Linked DNA regions of Homo sapiens. The protein of the gene in region 1 interacts with the protein of each later gene in a pairwise test. Each region holds a gene or a part of one and is shown in the gene's direction. Other genes may lie near its edges.

Evidence for each region. Proteins that work in one complex are often made in the same cells at the same time.
Region 2: the proteins of WT1 (region 1) and IDI1 interact in a two-hybrid assay, tested with the Homo sapiens proteins (one large-scale study listed by BioGRID and IntAct).

What each region holds. Positions count from the first base shown.
Region 1 is NC_000011.10:32,415,040-32,418,539, reverse strand, and holds part of WT1 (Wilms tumor protein), read left to right. Parts: intron 1-885; coding exon 886-963; exon of another isoform or gene 964-1,116; intron 1,117-1,999; coding exon 2,000-2,050; intron 2,051-3,500. UniProt on the Homo sapiens protein: Transcription factor that plays an important role in cellular development and cell survival. Recognizes and binds to the DNA sequence 5'-GCG(T/G)GGGCG-3'. Regulates the expression of numerous target genes, including EPO.
Region 2 is NC_000010.11:1,042,620-1,046,119, reverse strand, and holds part of IDI1 (isopentenyl-diphosphate Delta-isomerase 1), read left to right. Parts: intron 1-1,918; exon of another isoform or gene 1,919-1,948; coding exon 1,949-2,121; exon of another isoform or gene 2,122-2,610; coding exon of another isoform or gene 2,611-2,632; intron 2,633-2,726; coding exon 2,727-2,819; intron 2,820-3,357; coding exon 3,358-3,488; intron 3,489-3,500. UniProt on the Homo sapiens protein: Catalyzes the 1,3-allylic rearrangement of the homoallylic substrate isopentenyl (IPP) to its highly electrophilic allylic isomer, dimethylallyl diphosphate (DMAPP).

The sequences.
Region 1 (3,500 bases):
AAAGTGTTTAGACCAAGAGGTCCCAGAAAAACTCTTGGTCTCTTGGGTCTCAAATTTCATAATTAACCATTTCAGTTCAGGCATAAATTTATTCCTGATGGAGCTTGGTAATTTAGGAGATTTCTGGCAATTGATTCATGTGCTAATTTTCTAGGAATGAGATAAATACAGAGGGGACAGAACAGCTTTTTGTTGGTTTACATAGCGGTGTAAGACTTCTTTGGAGTCTTAATGTAAATGATAAGCCATTTCCCTCATAGAGTCTTATAGAACTGGGCTCTTTTTTTTTTTTTTTAATTTGACTTGTACCAGGATTATAAAACATATAGAAAATGATTCCTTCCGCTGTGCATAGAGTTTATCATCGTCTTTCTTCTGCTTGTCACATCCTTGCTTTTTAGACCATTTATCACCCATCACTCTGACTTTTCAGACCCTCATAATCCACATGATACTTATCCTTTTGATTAAAACAACTTAATGGCCTTTTCACGAATAATTAATCTGCTGTCTTTACTTTCAGCTCCAGGCTTTTAACTTTAATGTTGAGTTATCCAGCCTGTGTTGCCTTTCAAAGTTTCACTCCCCTTAGCCTTTTCCCCTCAAAGGTTTAATACTTCTTTAGAAACTTCAATAGTTGCTATACAAAGGTTTTAAAAAATGCTTCTGAGTTACTCTCACATCCCTTCTGCTGTGTATGAAGTGTATAACTGTGCAGAGATCAGTGGGATGAAATGAAAATAATTCAGATTTGCATATTCTGTCATTCTGGAAAATGTGGAGGCTTGCACTTTCAAGAAAAGTTAAAACTCCATTGCTTTTGAAGAAACAGTTGTGTATTATTTTGTGGTTATGTGTTTCTAACTCTAGATGTTTTTCTAACAGTGACAATTTATACCAAATGACATCCCAGCTTGAATGCATGACCTGGAATCAGATGAACTTAGGAGCCACCTTAAAGGGGTAAGGTTTTCTCTATTCCATTGCCTTTCCACAGTAACTTATACCTGTTTGAACCATTTCAAAGGTGCTTAGAACTTATGAAGAAAGTACAGTTTTAGAAGAAAGGGCAAAGCTCTCTGTGACATTAGAACGCTTTCCTCCTTCCCCTAGTTGGTGAGTTGTGTTCAGTATTAAATTTTCAAAAACATAAATGTGGGTTGTTTCTATCTGGAACAAGGAATATTGAGGACACTTATTATGGTCTTGTTGAATGTTTTATAATTCTTCAAAGGCTATTCAACCTCATTTAATAATTGTGTTTTACTATGATATCACAGTTGTTAACCATTCCACTATCTTATCAAGAAGTGCTTTGGGTGTGCAAAGTCCGGGATCCAAATTTGTATTTGTGTGATGCTGATCTGGGCAATTCACAGTCAGATACGCCCATACCTGATTGCACCAACAGGGTTTTTCTTTCCATACTTGATAATACAACCATAATAGGGAGAATACAGCCAGGAAACATCAGAAGGAGCTACTCTTTGCACCTAAAAATGAAAAAATAAAAAAAAGAAGGCAGGTGGGACTTGCTTTCACCATTGAAAGAGCTCACTTTTCATTTTCTACCAAGTGTGAAGAGATGGGCAGTAGCATAGAACACTCATGAAGTGCCTGCAGCGTGTCAGGTGTCCTTCCAGGTTACCTCATCTTATCTTCCCAACACTCTCATGAGAGCTAAGTACTGCTTGGTTTACAGATAAGTAAACCAAGCTCAGAGGGTTAAGTTACTTCCCAGGTTCACATCCTACTAAGTGCTAGAGCTGGGATGCCAAGTCCAGATCTGATTCCAAAGCCCAAGCTCTTTGCAGCCTCCGGTGGTGCCTTCCACCCCACCATTGGCCCCAGTGGGACTGGGGACTTAGTTCAGCACTCTTGATAGCTAGCTTGATGTCTCTGTGTATTGAGGGGCTTTTCACTGGATTCTGGGATCTGGGGGGCTTGCCAGATCCATGCATGCTCCATTCCCCACTCCCCACCTCTTCTTCTTTTCTAGAGTTGCTGCTGGGAGCTCCAGCTCAGTGAAATGGACAGAAGGGCAGAGCAAGTGAGTGGACAATGCGGAGATGGCAAAGCAAATGGCGTAGGCCTTGCTGACTGGCACCTGGGGCAATGCAGGAGTTAGGACTGACGTGGGTAATCAGGGTAGCATTTGGTGGATGGGAAGAATCTCTCTCCCCCGCCCCCACCTCTTCTTATTCATCATACACATGCTGGGGACAAAATGGAGGGAGTAGCATTTCTCATCAACATGCCCCTGGAAAACAATGTAAAAAATTATGCAGCATCCTGTTCATTTCTTTGTGAATACTTCACAAAATACTAAATACTAAATTTGTGGCATTACAACCATAATGCCACATGTTCCTGTTAGATCAGTCAAAGCTTTCAGTCTTAACTTGCTTCTTCTTTATTTACCTTTAAATCTCTCAGGGAGAACTTACCCTAAGTCTGAGGCCAGGCTTTGAAAAGACTTGTTTTTTGTTGTTTTTCAAAGTTTGTTTTTATTCCCAAACATTCGCACCTTCCCCAGCCCTGTACCCTGCACCTTGGGGAATTTCTGTAGCTGTTTCTTTTTCTTCTCTCTGCTTTAACTCCACAACCAGCCGCCCTCTTTTCTTCTTTATTGTGTGGGCCCAGTCCTGTTATTTGGTTCATCCTTCAGTAATCAACAGAGTTGTATTTCATCTTCCAAGACTTACTGTTAGGTTCTTCACCTCACCCCCGCCCCCAAATTTTTCAGCAGTTTTATCCAGATCTCCTCTTCCTCTCTCTGGACCACAAAGAAAAGGCTTTCTGTTGTTTTAAATTATTTCTCTCCTGTCTTCCATCTGGGGGACTGCTGACAGTTTTAGCATTCTGTCTTTCTACCCATTCTCTTTTCTTTTTGAGACGGAGTTTAGCTCTTGTCGCCCAGGCTGGAGTGCAATGGTGCCATCTCGCTCACCGCAACCTCCACCTCCCGGGTTCAAGCGATTCTCCTGCCTCAGCCTCCCCAGTAGCTGGGATTACAGGCATGTGCCACCACGCCCGGCTAATTTTGTATTTTTAGTAGAGATGGGGTTTCTCCATGTTGGTCAGTCTGGTGTCAAACTCCCGACCTCAGGTGATCCGCCCACCTTGATCTCCCGAAGTGCTGGGATTACAGGCGTGAGCCACCGTGCCTGGCCTTTCTACCTGTTCTTAACTCGTCTTAAGTTCCTTGGCTTCTTGGTCCCACCCTTTCTTTCTGGCTCCCTTCCTTTTCTCCTTTCTCCTCTCCTCAGAACTTGATAACCTTCCCCAAGCTAAATAGCAAGGATAGACAGAACATGATTGTGAAGTGAGCAGTACATTTCAGTTTCAAAAACTTCTTCATGCTGTAATACAGGGGCTTGTTTGTTCAGTTACAAAAATTACAGATAAGGAATTTGGCATGTATTTGCAGCTGGATATTTCCATGGTTAAGATAATTTCGATACTTTTTAAGGTCTTTAGACATGTACTGTTAGTCACTT
Region 2 (3,500 bases), on another chromosome or scaffold:
CTGTGGGAGGTCCTGGAACTAACTCCCATATATACCAAAGGATGACTGTATATAAAACTAGCCTATAGAAGTTGGAAATCTTTCTAAAATTGAGGCTAACTCTGAAGTTGACTTCCTTTTCACATTATTTTCCCTCTTGATTTGTTTTAATCATTAACCTTATTTCAGATTTTTTGTATTAGATATCAATATCTCCATCATCACTGACTCCTGACACACGCATTCACACACACACACACACACACACACACACCCAGACCCTATGTGGGTCTAGAACTTTGTATTAAGTAGCTGTTTAAACACTTTGTGTACATTCTGCAGTATGCTTGAACTCTGTTGAAAGTATTTCAGTGGTCCCCGTGTGGTGGCTCACTCCTGTAATCTCAACACTTTGGGAGGCCAAAGCAGGCAGATCTCCTGAGGTTAGGAGTTCGAGATCAGCATGGCCAGCATGGCAAGACTTCGTCTCTACTAAAAATACAAAAATTAGCCTGGCGTGGTGGTGCACGCCTGTAGTCCCAGCTACTTGGGAGGTCAAAGCAGGAGAATCACTTGAACCCAGGAGGTGGGGGTTGTAGTGAGCTGAGATTGCACCATTGCATTCCAGCCTGGGCAACAAAACGAGACTCCCTCTCAGAAACAAAAAAGTATTTCAGTAAAATCTATGTATTTGAAATAGAGTCACATAGAAAGTAGAGCACATGGGATCTTCAAAATATATTGGGTAGAAAAATCAGAAAACAAAAATTATTATTCATTCAGAAATAAAGGAGAAGAAAAAAGGGAATAAAAAACTTCAAGGTCAGACTATGTAAAGGTGCCCTGAAGGATACAAAGATTAGAAAGCTTAGACGCTGCTGGATACAGATATGTAAAAGTGTGAGTCAGAATACTGAAAGTACCCTAATAAGTGCTTTACGTTGTAATCACATGGGAGGGATAAATGGGGGTTCAGAAAATTAATGTTTGATGCACTAAGGTAGGAATGGGCCAACTATGGCCTATAGGCCAAATCTGGCCTGCTGCCTGTTGTTACGTCCTGTGAGCTGAGTGTTTTTCTCATATTTAAACGGATGGAGAAGAATCAAAATATTTTGTGACACATGAAAATTAAATGTAATTCAGTGTCCATAAATATTGGCATGCACCCACACTCAGTTTACATACTGCCCAGTTCACCTATTGCCTGTGACTATTTTAGTGTTACAGAGGCAGAGTTCATACTCTCTGGCCCTTCACAGAAAAAACTTGCCAAGCACTGCCTTAAAGCATCTATTGAATATAACGAATTAAGTCTTCTCCTGTTTATCTAGAATGATATCAGCTAAGTACTGTCCTGGGGGAAATTGACAAAACTCATACAAATAATTTTTCTGATAACCCAGGAGCTTGGGTTGAGAAAAACTGGATTAAGTCTTACTGTGACATTGGTAGAAAGGTTATTGAATGTCTGGCACGAGTTGTGCCTTGAAAAAATGGATTTCAACCAAGATTGGCCTGTGGCAATCTTGAGCAACTATGCAGAGACAGGCAGTGGGAAAAACAATTCAGGATGGCAATGGGAGCACATTCTAGAGATTACAGAAGCTGGTGTAGAAAAGCAGGATGAAAAGTTAGGTTGGGGCCAAAAACCAGAGAAGAAAAGTACACTGGAAAAAGGATTGAGTATCAAGTGCTGCAGAGGATCTCAGAGGTCAAGAATTTAGAGCGGAACGTTGAGCTTGGCCTTCAGGAGCATGACTGTGATAAAAGGCCAGCTGTGAAACCTGTAGGAGAAATGATGACCCAGATAGTGCTGAGCAGCCGGCTGGCAGCGTTCTTGGGGTCCCTGTGGGGATGCAGAGTGGTACAACTGCAGATGGGGAAGCAGCATCATTATTAACCTGTGTTTATATGACATTCAGAAAAATATATGATGGCCTTTCTTTCTCTTTTCCTTTAATATTAGTGTTCTAGAACAGATCAGACATTTTGTAATGATGCCTGAAATAAACACTAACCACCTCGACAAGCAACAGGTTCAACTCCTGGCAGAGATGTGTATCCTTATTGATGAAAATGACAATAAAATTGGAGCTGAGACCAAGAAGAATTGTCACCTGAACGAGAACATTGAGAAAGGTGCTGCTTTGAAACAGTCTTTCTTGTAAAGCGATTTGTGTAGGCATTTCCGATTTGCTGAGAAGAGCACTCTGTTCAAGGAAGTGCAGTCTTCAGTAATACCGTATTTTCTCGTTGGTTCCAGTTCGTTAAATAGTGTGGTCATTAGCATCTGCTTTGCTGTCTTCCTGTTACAGCGATTTCTCTTCACTTCATGCCTGTTACTCGGCTTCTTCAGAGTTATTCTGGATTCATAGAAGAGGGACTAGCCCTGACATACAGCAGCAGCCTAGCCTCTAATATTTCTAGAGAGTGGAGAGAGGCGGGCACCATGCAGGGAAGCATGTGCCTTCACCACTTTCCGAGAACTGAATGTCCTTGATAGGGAACTTGACTGCCGGAAAGGGGCCACCAGCATCACCATTTCCTTCACTCGACGGCCAACTTCCTTGCCCAGTGCAGAGCTCTTCCTCACCATAGCCATGCAGAGACTATGCATGTGGATAAACCATGGGAAAAAGCAAAAGCAGCAGCAAGTTACTAATGTTATTCTGAACTGCAGGGAGAGAATTTGGCAAATAACTGGTACTTAAGGCTAAAATAATTGTTATTTCTTTTGCTTTCAGGATTATTGCATCGAGCTTTTAGTGTCTTCTTATTCAACACCGAAAATAAGCTTCTGCTACAGCAAAGATCAGATGCTAAGATTACCTTTCCAGGTTAGTACACTTTTAATGTACAATATTGTGTTTGTACATTAATTTGACTTTTTATCATTCTGAATTCTTGGAGCCAAGGTCACAAAGGGAAATCCTGTGAATGGCATAATTTTATATTCTGCATAAAGTGAGTTTACACAATGAGTGCAACCTAATACAACAGCAAGAAAAAATAAGAACTAGTAAGCAATTGGGCAATATGTATAATTTACATATTTATCTTTAATCTGTATTATCTACACTTTGATCTTTTTTGGTTAAAGAAGTATTAATAAGGAACCTACCTACAAATGTAGTCTGTTTCACAACATAATTACTGATAGCCCATTATAACCAATTTTAAAATCCTTAAAATAATTACTGATAGCCCATTATAACCAATTTTAAAATCCTTAAAATAATTACTGATAGCCCATTATAACTGATTTTAAAATCCTTAAAAATCATTTCATTTTTCAGTTACTTATAAAACTTTTTCTTGATCTTTCAGACCTACTTTGAAGAAAAGTTGATCTGTCTCTGTATTACCATTTTCCAGGTTGTTTTACGAATACGTGTTGTAGTCATCCATTAAGCAATCCAGCCGAGCTTGAGGAAAGTGACGCCCTTGGAGTGAGGCGAGCAGCACAGAGACGGCTGAAAGCTGAGCTAGGAATTCCCTTGGAAGAGGTAACCAGCTCT